Regions from separate parts of the Homo sapiens genome. Here region 1 is linked to region 2. The links come from fine-mapping of genetic effects on gene expression. A gene starts in region 2. The other region holds a variant in brackets. All regions are shown on one strand. Distances are between the middles of the regions.

Region 1 (8,868 bases), 24 kb after region 2:
AGAACTTCACATGGTAGAATTCGGTGGGGTGTATATTTAGGTCTTAAATTTTCAGAAGTAGGCAACTTTGGCTTCATTCATGCATATAATACCAGAACTCTTTGGATTCCTGGGTCTTCTTCAAATGTCACCTCTGCAAACTCAGCAGAGGTGTAACCAGTTCTCCCTGAATCATAACAAAGTCAAGCTCATTAAAGTTCAGGCAAATAGCACTCTGTGTTATTTTCTGAAATTTGGAGAGGAAATAGGCAGGCAGATTCTCCTTCACAGTATGAATTTTAAAAATAATTCTTAGGTATATTTTTTCCTAAGACTTCTCTCTTTATGTTAATGCTGGTCTCTCTTCAGGAATATAAAAGTATACTACTAGGCTTCACACTAAGTGAAAGATACCTATGGATCCCTTCAATCCTAGAGAGATCTGATTTAAGAAATTGCACAAAGCATAAATCACTTAATTAGGTCCATTTTAATAAAGGGTATAGGAGTTTACAACTCAAAACAATTCATAAAACCTATCAGATACATACGATAAATCACACCGAGAGTGCAATAACATAAATCCAATGGTCTGCAAATAAGAGGTATTGCAAAAATTGTTAAGATTGACTTTCATGTTTCCCCCCCTCCTTTCTCTTGTTCACAGCCCGAGATTATGTGTACATTGTTTTCTGAGGCCTGATGACCTCAATACTCCTTCTGGCTGGAGAGACCTCCTCATTCAGTCCATTCCAAATAGTCAGCAGAGGGAGTTCACCTCTTCTCCACGGAATGAGCGTGGTCCTTGTCCTTTATTATTTGGTTTCTATCTCCTAACAAATGACATTAAATGTTCCCTCATTCAAAACATCTTGTGGGCCTTGTGGTGTTCTGGTCACTGCTACCCTCTCAATGCCACACATGAGCCCTCAGGGTGAGCCCTACAGAGTTTCATCCTTGTGGATAAGAAGATGTGTACTTGGGAACAAGGCTAAAGCCATGGCTGATTTCCCCAACCTTTTATCGCGAAGAACTCCAGTTGTAACTTTTGAGAGTTTTTTTGGCAAAAGGAACTACATTTACTCATGCCAAATACCTATGGTCACTTCTCAGTACTCTTTGGATACCTTTATTAGGAGAGCTTGAATTAACACCATGGAAGAAAGCATGAAGATGAATGAGCACACACACACACACACACACCCCATTCACACTCAAATAGGAATCTCTGGTAGACTCAAAGAGTACAGCTGATTTGCCATTTCAGAGTGAAAAGGCTGCACTGTCTCACCCTGCCCCCAAAGTCTAACCTATCCTATTTTAACTGGTATTGGTAAAAACTATTTTTGCAATTCCTTGCCGAAAGGAATCAAACGGATCCCTTTAACATGTACATATAGTTCCATTATAATGCAATGCAGGTAACACTAACTTGATTTCAAGAACATTGTCAAAACTGGGGTACACATCCTTCTATTAGAAATGGCTGGGGGACAGCTGAGAATAAATTTATGGAATTACAAATTATGGGAATACTGGACTAAGTCAAGAATGGTTACCATGTAGCCATTTTTACCAGCTATTCTAGAGTCCCTTCACACATAAACTTGACCCTGCATTCCGGGAAAAGTACCTCTGGGTTGTCACTACAGAGTAAGGCTGGGGTCCTGCCAACCTTCCTTCATCCTTTCTTCTAGTTCATAATAGGGAAGGTGAGCCATTTCATTCATTCATGTTTTGTTTGTTTTGTTTTTTTGAGACAGGGTCTGGCTCTATTGCCTGGGCTGGAGTGCAGTGACACGATCTTGGCTTAGTGCAACCTCTGCCTCCCGTGCTCAAGCCATCCTCCCACCTAAGCCTCCCAAGTAGCTGGGACTACAGGTGTGCACCACCATGCCTGGCTAATTTTTGTATTTTTTGTAGAGACAAGGTTTTGCCATGTTGCCCAGGTTGGTCTTGAACTCATGAGCTCAAGCGATCGGCCCAACACAGCCTCCCAGAGTGCTGGGATTCCAAGTGTGAGCCACCACACCCCGCCCATTTCATTCTTATTTGGTGAGATTGTCACAGACTTGGCTGAAACTTAACAAGAAACTGTTTACAGCAACAAAGGAAGCAATTAAAGTTAACATGATCATTCAACTGTGCCATTCATCATGCACTTATTGACATGCTCAAAATAGGGGAATGTTAAGTAAGGAAATGAAGTGGGAACAGGAACAAGGGAGCTAAGCCAAGAGGACTTCCAGGGACTTGAACAAAAACAATTCCCAACCACATACTACTTTTCAAGCATTTTGAAACTCTTCTTTTCCTTTAGTGATGTTTTCAGTAACAAACTTGCAAGTGTTCTTGGTGGTTAAAAAACAAAACAAAACTACAAGTATCAGCTGAGAAAGACAAAGAAAAAACTAAGAATTTAAATTAGATAATTCCATTTAAAGTTTCCAATTCCTCGTTTAGGTGGAGTTGGAACATTAGAACTCAGGGGTGGTTTGGATATTAACAAGGTACTCCTGCCTCCTCAGAAGCTACAGTCTTTTCTGCAGCTCTCTTATGTACCTCTCATCAAAATAATTTCAGTCCCACATTTCTCGGATAAAACCACATCTGTGGTTTTATCCAGCAACCATTTCACAGTCGACTGGCACGTGTTCTCCAATTTCAGTTCCAAACACACAACACAGAATCACACTTTTCTTTATTAAAGGGACCCAAGTGATTTTTAAGCTGTATTCTTCCTGCTAGAGAATGAATTGAGTAGCATCCTTCTCTAATTTCCTACAATAAAATTTCCTATGTGATATACTGCATATATATTATATCTGATATATGTTTTGATTATTTTTCTTTATGGAAGCAAATACAGAATTTCCTTGTCAGATCACTCTGATGATTATAATCTGCTACTTTGATTATGCATCAGTGAAATGTCCACCAAGCAGTTGAAAACACTGATGTACATGTATTCTAAAACTTACTAAATAATGGGCCAGTAAGATACCAGTATCTTTCTAGAACGTTTAGAAAGAGATCTTAGTTGCCAGAGAAAACTCAGATACAACATGAGCCTCTAAACACATACACTCTAGTCTACAAATATGAGACTTTTCAACTCAACAATAAGTGGGCCGAAAACAATATAGGGCGTATGACCTAGACTCCCTGGGTGCTGCTCAGCAGCTGCTTCAGCATCAAATTGTGTTCATCCCATTTTCTAATCTAACCAAGCACTTGGAACTAAAGGGCTGTATGTGAGCCCAAGAAACTGATATATTAAATATTTTTCACCACATATGACATCTTTCATTCAGTACTGCCTGTTAGTCAATTACTGTGGATTCTTTCAGGGTTCATCAATGCATGTGTGGCTCGATGGTTTAGGAATAAATATATTCTGGCTCAATGCTTTCCACTGAAATGAAAGGTCACAACTTCTATGTTCCCTATCAAATGTGTAAAGCAAAAACACAACAAACGAAAACAAGAAAGTAGAGTTGTTTGTTGATTATATACAGTCATGTGCTGCATAAAAACGATTCCATCAATGATGGACCACATATACCATGATGGTCCCATAAGATTATACCATATTTTTACTGTACCTTTTCTATGTCTAAAATGTTTGGATACAGAAATACTTACCATTGTGTTACAACTGCCTACAGTATTCAGTACAGTAACATGCTGTACAGGTTTGTAGCCCAGGAGCAACAGGCTGGACCATATAGCCTAGGTAGGTAGTAGGCCGTGCCATCTAGGTTTGTGTTAAGTACACTCTGTGATGTTCACACAATGACAAAATCACCTAAGGATGCATTTCTCTGAATGTCTCCCTCATCATTAAGTGGGGCATGACTGTATTTTTTTTTCTCTTTAAGGAAATAAGACCCTACTGTAATACAAGTCGGCAGAATCTAACTGTTACTAATAATTAATGTAATCCACAAGTCAAAGTTTTTTCATGCATCACCAAAAAAAAAAAAAAAAGTAATTTGCATGTGTTTGCATCCGTTTCTGTATTCAAAGAAGGTATGTAGAGTCTCCACCCATCATGTCTCCAGTGACAATTTTTTTTTTTTTTTTGAGGCGGAGTTTTGCTCTTCTCGCCCAGGCTGGAGTGCAATGACACAATCTTGGCTCACTGCAAAGTCTGCCTCCCTGGGTCAAGCAATTCTGCCTCAGCCTCCCTAGTAACTGGGACTACAGGTGCGTGCCATCACGCCCAGCTACTTTTTGTATTTTTGGTAGAGACAGGGTTTCACCATGTTGGCCAGGCTGGTCTCAAACTCCTACCCTCAAGTGATCCACCCACCTCGGCCTCCCAAAGTGCTGGGATTACAAGCGTGAGCCACCGCGCCTGGCCTCCAGTGAAAAATTTAAAAAGGATACAAGCTCATACTTGACGAAGTATTCAACTATGTAGTAAAATCACCATGATTTTATCCTGATTTGCACCTTGAGAATTAAAATAGTCACTTGATTAGAAGGGAATTATCAAATAACCAAAGGAAAAACATTTTGCTGGGCTGTTACAGAGATAATCCTGAATATTTGGAAAGGGGAATTAGAATGATCTCTTACTTTAAGAATTTCTGAACCAAACACCGCATGTTCTCACTCATAGGTGGGAATTGAACAAAGAGAACACATGGACACAGTAAGGGGAACATCACACTCTGGGGACTGTTGTGGGGTGGGGGGAGGGGGGCGGGATAGCATTAGGAGATATACCTAATGCTAAATGACGAGTTAGTGGGTGCAGCACACGAGCATGGCACATGTATACATATGTAACTAACCTGCACATTGTGCACATGTACCCTAAAACTTAAAGTATAATAATAATTTAAAAAAAAAAAAAGAATTTCTGGGCCAGGTGCGGTGGCTCACGCCTGTAATCCTAGCACTTTGGGAAGCCAAGGTGGGTGGATCACAAGGTCAAGAGTTCAAGACCAACCTGGCCAACATGGTGAAACCCCATCTCTACTAAGAATACAAAAATTAGCCAGGCG[C/T]GGTGGTGTGTGCCTATAATCCCAGCTACTCGGGAGGCTGAGGCAGAATCGCTTGAACTCGGAAAATGGAGGTTGCAGTGAGCCGAGATCACACCACTGCACTCCCGCCTGAGCGACAGAGCAAGACGCCGTCTTGAAAAAAAAAAAAAAAATTTCTGAGTTGGGGTGAGAAATCTCCCTGAGTATTTCTAGGCTCTTCGCTCATGTTTTTGAGGGCTTCACTTGATAATGACCATGGGAAGAATCTGGGGTGCAAAGTTCCACGTGCATTAGCCGAAATTATTCATTCAACTAGAAAGACAATTTTGCATCCACTAATACATAAAAATCAGAAAGGAGAATTGGGAAAAAGCATATTCTTAGAATAACATTTAGCATCCACCAAAGTGAAGGACATAGGTTTCTGGCACAGTTGAAACCTTAGTTGGAAAACCAAACCTTGGCACAGTGCCAATTATTTATCTTTTGATCAGGACATTTGAAATAGGCAGAGACCACCAAAAAAGGACAAAGTATTGAAAAGTAGCTGCTCATTTTTTACTGCCAATATTCCTGAACTTTAAAGAATATCACACCTAATCAACCGCAATAGAATTGGGCATTCAGACTTGATTCTTAGATGAATTTCCAATAATTTTTAAATCATTGATCTGGCTTGGTAAATAGCTCTCCAAACTTCTACAGCTAATGGAAAAATCACTTAACCTTTACTAGAAGTAACAGAAAGCATTAAAGTTGAAACCTAATGCAGCAGTTCTTTCCAGTGAGTTGAACTGCCTTAGCAGAAATCTTCCCATTGAGATACAGGCTTTATTTTTATTATTATATTTTTGGAGACAGTGTCTCACTCTGTCACCCAGGCTGGACTCACAACTCACTGCAGCCTCAAACTCCTGGGCTCAAGTGATCCTTCCAGCTCAGCCTCCTGAGTAGCTACAGGCATATGTCACCATACCCAGCTAATTTTTTTCATTATTTTATTTAATTTTATTTTTTAGACTCGCTCTGTCGCCCAGGCCAGAGTGCAGTGGCGCAATCTCTGCTCACTGCAACCTCTGCCTCCCGGGTTCAAGCGATTCTCCTGCCTCAGCCTCCTGAGTAGCTGGGACTACAGGTGTGCACCACCACGTCCAGCTAATTTTTTGTATTTTTAGTAGAGATGGGGTTTCACCATGTTGGCCAGGCTGGTCTCAAACTCCTGACCTTGTGATCTGCCCACCTTGGCCTCCCAAAGTGCTGGGATTACAGGTGTGAGCCACCATGCCCAGCCTATTTTTTTATTTATTTTTTGAAGGGACAGGGTCTCGCTGTGTTGCCAGAGTTGGTCTTGAACTTCCTGGGCTCAACTGATCCTCCTGCCTCAGCCTTCCAAAATGCTGGTATTACAGGTGTGTGGCACTGCACCTGGCCAGCTTTATTTTAAGGCACTAATAATAAAGGGTATGAAAAAAGCTAGGAATAAGTCAGATCTTTCCAGAAATAAAAGACAATTTTAAAAAACATCAGTTAACCTGTCTGGCCTATTTCAACATCTAAAGAGGATAGAGAATGTAAAAGTTTTCATGCCTACCTGATTCAGCTCTTTTCCATTCTCCCAAACACTTATTTCCATGTCTCAGATTTACATTTCCTCAAAAGGCAGTAGAGATTTGGAAACAACAACAACAACAACAACAACAACAACAAAACCACCCCAAAACAAGCAAGCCTAGTTTGTAGCCTAGTCTCATGATTAATGAATTCCCTAATGCTGGCATTTAGCCCACATACTGAGAGGCCGGAACTGTAACAAGGTGCTCTTTTCTAGTGTTGTAAGGGGAAAATGTATAAGGAAAATTAATTTTTCATAATCAGGTAAATATAATTTGTTAATAGCAAAACAAGAAATTCCGGAGAGAAAAAAGATTTACTCTGAAACACCAGTTCCAGCAGGATTTCCCTACACCTTCCAACGTATTCTACTTTGCCATGAGAAAAAAACTAAATAAATAAAATGGGGTTCAAGTCAGTTAGGCGAGCAAACACCAAAAAACGAGTGATTTCATTGTGGAGGTAGGCATGATGGGGCAGGATTTCCCTCAAGTGGAAATGCTTCCTGTGCACACACACGTATACATGCACACACAAACCTGTACACTCACACTAATTTCAAAAGCATGGATGTGGGGAAAGCCCTGCCAGCATGACTAGACATGAGGAGTTAGCCCATCTGCCTGTATCTCTACACAGGCTCTGACGTACATTCCACACCCATAGACAGTCATGCACGAGAGCCAGCCTGGCTTGCACACAGACTGAGAATCAGATCTGGAGACTCCTAGAGCTGCTGCTTCTACAGGAATTATTAGTAACTGCAGGATTATACTTCCTGTTGATGTGCAGGGTTTTTATCTTGCTCTTCTTTCCAGACATCTCCCCTTTTCAAGAGTACTAAATCTTGATTTAGTGGAGGGACTAATCTTGATTCTTCGATGGGCATGACTTAGAACAGGAGCTACAGGAATTAAAACTAGCAACAATAGGGCCCCTTTGGGATTGGGGTGAAGAAGTATTTCAGGATTTAAACAGTTTCTGTGGGTGGGGCGGGGGGAAAGCAGAGTTCTTGGTGGAAGTGGATGACCTCTGTGAAGGAGATGAAAATGCCTCCAAGTCCAGAAATCAATATAAACAAACAAACAAACAAACAAAAATGAACATAACTTAAAGGGGCTTCAACTAAATATCACTGCAACTGAGTTTGTTGACTCAAGAAATTCTGCTCTGACGCAGGGAATTGAAATATAAGAACTGATAATATTTCTTCTTCAGAAGGCTAAGCTGGGAGTGCCATGGCGGGTATTGAGGGTGGGATAGAGACAAGAGGCTTGAGGCTCAGGTTTTGCTCCTAGGGTTTCTTGCCTGATTTTGAAGGGAAGGGTGCTAGAGCAAATGGATCAGCAGCTGGCAGCTCCGTAGTCCTGGAGGAAAGGGATGTGATAGAAACAGACCCAGCTATCGACTGCTTGTTGGTTTGTGAAACAATTTTGTAGGCAGCAATGGGCTGGGCTTCTGGACTTGGCTCGTCTTCTGGGCTATAGTGACGGGAATACTTGGATAAGGACTGGGGGCGGAATGGTTTGCCAGCCATGGGGCCTGAGACAGCTTCTTTCTGGAGCTGAGGTCCTTTGTTTCTGTCATTAGAATGACCCCCAGATTCCAGGCAGGATCCCCTGGGAGAGATGCTGTCCAGATGGTCTGCTGCTTGTACAGAATGGGACAGGAGGTTAGACTGTTGCACAAAACCAGCTGTGGAATACTGAGCTTGGACAGAGGTGTACACAGCTCTCTCACGGCCCGCGGGCAGGGGGACATCACCTGTCTGACTGAGGAGACCGGTCTGTGCAGGCAGCTCCTGGGAGGTGCATTGGATAACTGTTAACTCCTCCATGCTTTTCTTCTTAGTGAAAGGAGCTCTCAAAAACACGTCTGACTCCTCTGGCTGGGAAGGAGCCATACTGCTCTTGGAGACAAATGGGGCTTTGGAGAAAATGTCCATGTCATCATTTGGAACCCTTGAGCTCCTGAAGGGAGCTATGGCAAAAACATCTGGCTCACTGAGCCCATCAGTGGCTGGCTGTGTGAAGGCTTGAAACTGGTTCTTTCTTCCACCTTGCACTGTCTTTGCTTGCTCAGGAGAGACTTCTGGTGGAGCGAATGGAACGGCTCCTCCCAGCTTCCCCGGGGGGGGTCTGCAGCTCTCATCTTCTTCTTCAGACTCCATAAGGAGAGGCCGAGACCCACTGCAGTCCAGCATGTCTCCTTCAAGGTCAGTCCCTTCCTCTTCGCTGCTGTGGAATGAGCTGTTGCTTGAAGGGCCATCTCTGGCCAAGTAGTC
Region 2 (8,868 bases):
CGCCACCATGCCTGGCTAATTTTTGTACTTTTTAGTAGAGACAGGGTTTCACCATGTTGGCCAGGATGGTCTCGAACTCTTGACCTCAGGTGATCCTCCCGTATCGGCCTCCCAAAGTGCTGAGATTACAGGCATGAGACACCACACCTGGCCCGTCTTTTTTTTTTGAGACTGAGTCTCACTTTGTCGCCCACGCTGGAGTGCAGTGATGCGATCCCAGCTTACTGCAACCTCCACCTCCTGGGTTCAAGTGATTCTCTTGCCTCAGCCTCCCTAGTAGCTGGGATTACAGGTGTACACCATCACACCCGGCTAATTTTTATATTTTTAGTAGAGACAGGGTTTCACCACGTTGGCCAGGCTGATCTCCAACTCCTGACCTAAAGTGATCCACCTGCCTTGGCCTCCCAAAATGCTGGGATTACACAGCCAACGATCTTGATCACGCTTTTCGTGTTTTGTTTTGAGACAGGGTCTTGTTCTGTCACCCATGCTGGAGTACAATGGTGTGATCAGGGCTCACTGCAGCCTCAACATCCTAGGCTCAAGTGATTCTCCCACCTCAGCCTCCCAAGTAGGTGACACTACAGCTGTATGCCACCATGCCCAGCTAGTTTTTTTTTTTTTTTTTACTTCTGGTAGAGATGGATTACCACTATGTTGCTCAGGCTGATCTCCAGCTCCTGGCTCAAGTAATCCTCCCACTTTGGCCTCCCAAAGTGCTGGGATTATAGGCGTGAGCCACCATGCCCTGCCTTTTATATGCTTTTTGGATGGAAACATATTAACCCAGTGTTGTAACTTCACTTCACTTTTTTTTTTCTTTTTTTTTTTGTGAGACGGAGTCTTGCTCTGTCGCCCAGGATGGAGTGCAGTGGTGCGATCTTGGCTCACTGCAACCTCCGCCTCCTGGGTTCAAGCAATTCTCCGCCTCAGCCTCCCAAGTAGCTGGGATTATAGATGCCCACCACCATGCCCGGCTAATTTTTGTATTTTTAGTAGAGACAGGGTTTCACCATCTTGGCCAGGCTGGTCTTGAACTCCTGACCTCATGATCCACTAGCCTCGGCCTCCCAAAGTGCTGGGATTACAGGCGTGAGCCACAGCGCCAGGCCTCTAACTTTACTTCACTCTTACAGAGAAAACTTAATTGGCTATTTTTTATGGCTTTGACAAACTGAAAACAAAGGAAGAAAATGAAAGCAAATATTACTGGAAAAGGAAGTAAAAGGAGACTTTAATAGTAAAAATTCTTAAAATCCCAATGCAATTTACTTTAAAATCCGGTTTACTTGAAAATATCATCGCTATCCATTACCACTGCCACTTCATAGGAGCCATAGAAAAATTTTAAGTACAGGAGTCATTTATAATTGCCAATGGGTTCACTTTGCCCACTGTCCAGATACTGCTAATTCATCAAGACAGGGGATTTGCAATAAAGAGTTTAATTCACATGGAGCCAGCTGAAAGGGAGAGTGGAGTTTTAGTACTCAGTCTCTCTGGATCTGAGGCTAGGGGTTTTCAAGGATAGACTGGCAGGCCAGGGAACGGGTGTTGCTGACTGGTTGGGGATGCAATCATAGGGGTGCGGAAAATGATCCTCCTGAGTGCTCAGCCCGTTTGTGGGCGGGGCCACAGGACCAGTCAGAAATGCAAAAACCTGAAAAGGCTAATCTTAGGTTCTACAAGAGAGATGTTTTCTGCAGGAGTAATTGGGGAAGTTGCAACTCTTAGGACCGCCAGAATAATGGCTGGTAATCATTTACATCTACACCTTAGCAGAATTCAGGCTCCTCTCATCCTCCAAACCTGGTGGTCTTTCATTAGCTTTATAAAGGTGGTTTAATTTTGGGAAAGGGCTATTATCATTTAAACTATAAACTAAATGTCTCCCAAAGTTAGCTTGGCCCAAGCCCGGGAATGGGCAGTCTAGAGGTTAAAGGCAAAATGATGGTCAGTTAGAACGGTCTTTCACTGTCATAATTTTCTGTTAAAATTTTTTCCAAAGGCCAAAATTGTTTGTGATCATACACAAGATCACATTTATCTAATTATCTTCTGCTTAAAATAGGCAAGAAGCAACAGCGGCTGCCACATTTTTTTCTCTCTCTCACAAAACTGGAATTCTTCTCGTGGAAAAGAAAGAGTGGGCACCAATTAAGTATTAACAAAATACAGATGAACTGTTTACTACCTTCAATAATCTTTATATGCCATTGATAAGCAAAAGACTACTGGGATACTGTGGGACTGTAACCCATAGAGTTTCTTAGATGCTATTGGAGAGATAAAAGGATTGGCACCGAGGATTCAAGAGAACAATGGAATCAACACTGAATGGGAATCAAATAATCTGTGAAGTCCTGACTGCCACTCCCCACACTAGCTCCAGTGTTGATCACAGTAAGAGCTGTCACCACTTTATTTTGAGATGGAAATAATCTCGCTTTTCTCACTCTGTCACCCAGGCTGAAGTGCAGTGGCGTGATCTTGGCTCACTGCAACCTCCACCTCCCTGGTTCAAGCAATTCCCCTGCCTCAGCCTCCCAACTCGCTGGGATTACAGGCACACACCACCACGCCCAGCTTTTTTTTTTTTTTTTTTAGTTTCACCATGTTGGCCAGACTGGTCTCGAACTCCTGACCTCAGCCAATCCGCCCAGCTTGACCTCTCAAAGTGCTGGGATTACAGGCGTGAGCCACCACGCCCGGCACACCACTTTAAATTACATGAATCTATTACAGCACTCATGACTGTCATTATTTGTTAATATATTTTTCTTGCTAGACTGCATACTCATTAAGGGGAGAAACTATCTTCATTTCTAGCTGCTAGCACAATGGCCTCAGTTCTTCATCTCTACAATGAGATTAGTTTCACAGCTACCTCATAAATAATCCAGAGAATCCATGTAAAGTGCTTAAACCAGTGCCAGGCCATGCAGTAAGTGCTCAATAAATGGCAGCTGCTACCATTATTTAATTGGTGCCCAATAATTACTAATTGAGTGCAGTTCAAGGTTTGGGGTAAAAATGCCTTTTTCTATAGCTCAGTATCTAAATCTGTGAATACTCTGGAATTTGGAAATGCACTAGAAGAATAATATTCTCGTCCCTTCAGCCCAGGGAAAAGGCAGCAGAATGAATAAAGAGGAAGCACATTCCAACATACAGGTTTAAAGTCTTGTTTTTTTAAAGTAAGAGTGGATTACATTATTCAAGGAAGACATCTACTCAAACACAGGAGGTAACTAACAAAAAATTCTACCAACTTAAATCTTTTTAGGATATACATTTAAACTTCAAGAGCACCATTAACACTACAATGTCTAATACTCTAGAGGGCAAACTCTCCGTAGGCCATTTTCTCCAGACGTAAAATTAAGGTACACCTACATAAATGTCCTCTTAGCAATGTTCACAGAAGTCTTTGAAAGGTGAAACTCAAAGGTAGGGCTCAGGGAGGCGGAAAAAACAAGGGAACAGAGTGGGCTTAATGGTGGTGGGTGCAGGGAATCTAGGGGTCCTGGTTCTCGTCGGAATTCCATCACTTAGAAACTGTGTAACCTTGGACATGTCACCTCCTCTTTCAGGGCCTTACTGGGAAAATGAGGAAACGAGACAAGGTATTTTCTTCCCTTCTGTGTGACATTCTGATTCTGCGTTTAGAAGAGGAGGGAATGCACCCGGTAGAGGGCCTGGGGGCGGGAGAGGCACACGATTTTAAAACAGCTCCTCCGTTCTGGCTCTACAGCCAGTCTCTACAAGCTTCCGTACCGCAGAGACTCAAGAACTGGGTCTCTGAGCCTGAGAGGAAGCTCCAGAGAGTCCGCCCGGATTAGGCCACAGAAGCGCCGAGCTCCCGCACAGACAGCCTCAGGGCTCACCCCCAACTACGGCGACAGGGCGGACCCGCCGGCTCCATCAGATGCACTACCCACCCGCCTCGAGAGAGGGTCTGCAAGGCGGCGACCGCTCCGCTGGCTAAGCCCAGCGGCACACCTATTCGGAGCTCCAGGCTCGTCACCTACCGCCTGCGCAGCCCGGCGGCAACAGCCGCAGCTCCCCAGCCCCGCCTGGCCGTCGCCGCCATCTTAGTCCGGAGTGCCTAAGGGTCTCCCTGACAGAACCACGAAAGATCTGCGCAGCCGCAGGCTGGCCGGTAGCTGGGCGGGCACTGGGAAGAGCCCACCCTACCGGCTGCGGGCGGTCCTGCTGCGGATAAGTGCGGTGGCCTACGCGCCGAGGTTTGCAGGCTACTGCGTCACCCTGACCAAGAGAGGCCGGGGAACCTTTCCCGTTTGCGCCAACGCTTGGTTAATTCACGCAGCACTGTGAACGCATGCGTGTTTCCGTACTTTGTTTTCCCTGTTGGCTAGGTTTTTAGCTGGTGCTGGTGCTGCCTTGCGAATGCTGTTTCCAGCCCCTAAACCTGACCCATTCCCTCCTCTAGGACCCTACTCAGCCTCCAGGCCCAGCTCAGTGACTGCCCCCAAAGACTCCCTGGAGCATTCCTTCTAAAAGGTTCTCGCATTTCTCCTGCCCTTTTCCCATGGGTCTGATGTGGAACTGTGTCTAACCCTTCCTCATAGCTGTGCTTGTCAGCTGCCACTTGGTCATCTTGGACCAACCCGCACAGAGGATGTATCTGGTACAGTGCTGCCCTTCTCCGATTAACATGAGACTTGACTAGTTTCCAGGGCAGAGTGCCAAAGCCCATTACCTATTCTTCCAGAACCTTCCTGGAGTATTCCGTTTTCTCTAGGACAACGGTTCTCAAAGTGCGGACTAGGGGCCAAAAAAAAGCAGGAGAACACGTTAGAAATGCACGTTAGAACATGTTAGAAATCCTGGGCCCCACTTTATACTTACTGAGGCACAATCTCTGTAGGTGGGGACTAGAAATCTTTGTTACTTGCTTTTTTTTTTTTTCTTTTTCCAGAGACAGGGTCTATCTCTGTTGCCCAGGCTGGAGAGCAGGAGTGCGATCATAGCTCACCAAAACCAACTCCTGGGCTCAAGTGATTCATCCTCCAGCCTCAGCCTCCCAAAGCACTGGGATTACAGGTGTGAGCCACGGTGCCTGGCTTTTATTAGCAGTAGTAGTAGTAGTATTTTTGTAGAGAAGAGGTCTCCCTGTGTTGCCTGGGCTGCTCTTGAACTCTGCTGGCCTCAAGTGATCCCTCTCACCTGGGCCTCCAAAAGCTCTTAGGTTACCTCACCCTGCCTAGTAGTGTTTTAACAAACCCTTCCCAGGATTCTGATGCCAGCTAAAATTTGAGAATCACTGTTCTGGAAGACAGAGGACTGGTTTCCAGAATGGAAACAGCACACCTGTTGTTGAACAGGTTGAGGCCACACCCAAGACAACCCTAGTAATTTCTATGGCCCACAGACACATCTAAGAGGGTGGGTGGGTTTCAGGCCTGCAGCTCGCCCGGGCCCGCACACTGAGTGGGCTGTGCCTCCTACGAGTTTGGTTCATTCCCAATGCTGCGTACTTGCTTTTAACTACTAGTGATCTTCCCCCATCCAACCCCCCACCCAGTGATCTTCCCCCATCCAACCCCCCACCCACCCCCCCACACACACCCATTCTAGACCGCAAGGCAGTCCAAGGCTCTGTTTTTGACCCTCAATCAAAAATAAAATGTGGCTCTTCCACCTTGGAACAATCGTTCTTCTCAGACTTCAATTTTTCCCTCTCTGATGGATTCCTTATCATAAGAAAAATCCTGCCTTGCCCCAAATCCTCTTCCACACTCTTTTCTTCCCTTCAGAACCAAGTGGCTTAAAAAAATGGTCTGCACTCTTAGTCTCTAGTTTTTCACTTCCCACTCCTCAAACCCCTGAAACGAGGCTTCTATGTCCCACCATTCTTAGGGCCTGCTCTAGTCAAACCACCCACAGCCTCTGTGCTACTGTGTCCGGAATTGGTGGGTTCTTGGTCTCGCTAACTTCAAGAATGAAGCCATGGACCCTTGTGGTGAGTGTTACAGTTCTTAAAGATGGTGTGTCCAGAGTCTGTTCCTTCAGATGGTCAGATGTGTCCGGAGTTTGTTTCTTCTGGTGGGTTCGTGGTCTCACTGACTTCAGGAGTGAAGCTGCAGACCTTTGCGATGGGTGTTACAGTTCATAAAGACAGCACGGGCCCAAAGAGTGAGCCACATCAAGATTTACTACAAAGAGCAAAAGAACAAAGCTTTCATAACATGGAAGGGGACCCAAGCAGGTTGCCACTGCTGCCTCAGGCACCCTGCTTTTATTCCCTTATCTGACCCCACCCACATCCTGCTGATTGGCCCATTTTACAGAGAGCTGATTGGTCCATTTTACAGAGTACTGATTGGTTTGTTTTACAGAGAGCTGATTGGTCCGTTTTGACAGGGTGCTGATTGGTGCGTTTACAATCCCTGAGCTAGACATAGAGTGCTGATTGGTGTATTTACAATCCTCTAGCTAGAGTAAAAGTTCTCCAAGTCCCCACTAGGTTAGCTAGACACAGAGCACTGATTGGTGCATTTACAAACCTTGAGCTAGACACAGGGTGCTGATTGGTGTATTTACAATCCTTTAGCCAGACATAAAAGTTCTCCAAGTTCCCACCAGATTAGCTAGATACAGAGTGCTGATTGGTGCATCCATAAACCCCAAGCTAGACACAGAGTGCTGATTGATACATATACAATCCTCTGGCTAGACATAAAAGTTCTCCAAGTCCCCACCTGACTCAGGAGCCCAGCTGGCTTCGCCTAGTGGATCCCATGCCAGGGCCATGAGCAGAGCTGCCTGCCAGTCCTGCACCACAAGCCTGCACTAGAAAAAGTATCAGGCCCAGAGAGGCATTTAAAATGTAGCAGCAGTAATATCTCATTCGCCCTTGAGCTAAGTAACAACTTCTTGAAGTCACTTGCTATGTATACACTAGACTAATGTCAAGAAGCCGTTAACATGCCATATACCCTATAGTTCAACAGTGCATGGCCAGTCACTAACAATGTTATTTCTGTAAACCAATGAGAATACCTGCTGAGCATGGTGGCTCACACCTGTAATCCCAACACTCTGGGAGGCCAAGGTGGGCAAATTGCTTGAGCCCAGGAGTTTGAGACCATGCTGGGAAACATGGAGGGTTTACAAGCATGAGCCACTAACCCTGGCAGAATAAAAACATGTTATCTGAGGAAGGTGAGCCCCTTTAAATTATGAGGCCCATTGACTAGCCTAAAAAAGAAAAGTATCAGGGCCGGGTGCTGTGGCTCACGCCTCTAATCCCAGCACTTGGGAGTCTCTACAAACAAACCATGTCTCCACAAAAAATTAGCCAGATGTCATGGCATATGCCTGTAGTGCCAGCTATTTGGGAGGCTGAGATGAGAGAATCACCTGAGCCTGGGAAGTTGAGGCTGCAATGAGCCGTGATTGCACCACTGCACTCCAGCCTGGGTGACAGCATGAGACCCTGTCTCAAGAAAAAAAAAAAGTCAAATGAGAATACCTGATGAGCAACTTTTGTAATTGTTCCTCTCCCCTGATTTGTCTCTTTTTCTTTAAAAAGTTGAGCCTCTCCTTTTTTCCCAGAGCACTCTCCAAGGCAACCTGCAATATGGCCAGGGCTACAGTCCTCAACCTTGGCCCAAATAAATTCTCTATATTAATTTTGCCTCAGCTTCTTTCTTTTAGGTCAATATTTGCCTACAGTACTGTTTAATTAGGTTTCCTGTTACTCACAGATGATCAAAATCCTGTGTGGAGTAATATTAAGATGAACAAAACAATTCCTGGTCTCAGGGAGCTCCTGGAGAAGATTTGTAAATCAACAAAGGCACTAAGGGAATAGAACGCTATGTGGGGGAGAGGAAGCATTGTCAAATGTGAAATGGTGTTTAACTTTCTTTGGGTTATATTTATATGAATGAGTTATTAATGTGTGTTTCAAAATTGTGTGAGATTCCTGTAATTCTGGTATGTCTTAGTATATGACATCAGTAATAATTATGATTATTATGTTACATCGTTGTGTGCCACAGAAATAACCAAATTTCCTTGTCAATTGTGTCTTTAACCATGGCTGTTCTTTTTTTTTTTTTTTTAATACTTTAAGTTTTAGGGTACATGTGCACAATGTGCAGGTTAGTTACATATGTATACATGTGCCATGCTGGTGTGCTGCACCCACTAACTCGTCATCTAGCATTAGGTTAACCATGGCTGTTCTAAGAGTTTTGTCATCCACAGACAATTGTTGTTTTATTTTGATTCTTCTCAAAAAGTAGTTTATAATCAGCTGCAGTCCAAAATTTTCTTCTTTAAGGAAATTCATGGAAAGGACTCTAACAAATACTCTTGAATACAAGTTTCCGATAACTTTGGAGATCATAGCATTGGACTATGAAAATGCTTTCCAGGACTCTAATTAAAAAGCTGATGTATTCATGAGGATTGCTAACCCAACATCAAAAAGAACAAGAGTTAATTAATGGGACTAAACCAATAGAATATTAAAGTAATTTTTGTATGTGTGTGAAGTAATTTTTAATGACTGTTTTTTGTTTGAAACATTGCTGATAATTTTTGTTTTGTTTTTACAGAGTCAAGAAAACTTTTTTCTGTTGAGCTATTTATAGCTTACAACAAGTTGGGTAAAATATACCTTTCTGATCAAAATTTGAAGCATATTCTTTCTCTCTAAATTTCCCCAGAATTTGGAAACTATTTGTGAGATTCTTTTTTTTTTTTTTTTTTTTTTTTTTTTTTTGAGACAAGGTCTCACTCTGTTGCCCAGGCAGGATTGCAGTGGTGCAATCTCAGCTCACTGCAGCCTCAACTTCCCAGGCTAAACTGATCCTTCCACCTCAGCCTCCC

What was found. PIP is the estimated chance that this variant, and not a neighbour inherited with it, causes the effect. A credible set is the group of variants that fine-mapping cannot tell apart.
Region 1: its variant is the best candidate, but not a certain one, in a credible set for the expression of NFU1 in fibroblasts (GTEx, PIP 0.83).

The regions. Positions count from the first base shown.
Region 1 is chr2:69,457,547-69,466,414 of GRCh38, forward strand. AAK1 (AP2 associated kinase 1) reads right to left here. Exons shown (of 22, transcript NM_014911.5): 22 at 451-8,868. Among named protein-coding and RNA genes, the nearest start is that of NFU1, 25 kb to the left of the region's middle. The variant C/T (reference allele first, on the strand shown) is at 4,995.
Region 2 is chr2:69,433,327-69,442,194 of GRCh38, forward strand. NFU1 (NFU1 iron-sulfur cluster scaffold) reads right to left here and starts at 4,109. Exons shown (of 8, transcript NM_001002755.4): 1 at 4,035-4,109. The coding sequence starts at 4,096. RefSeq lists an enhancer at 3,965-4,114.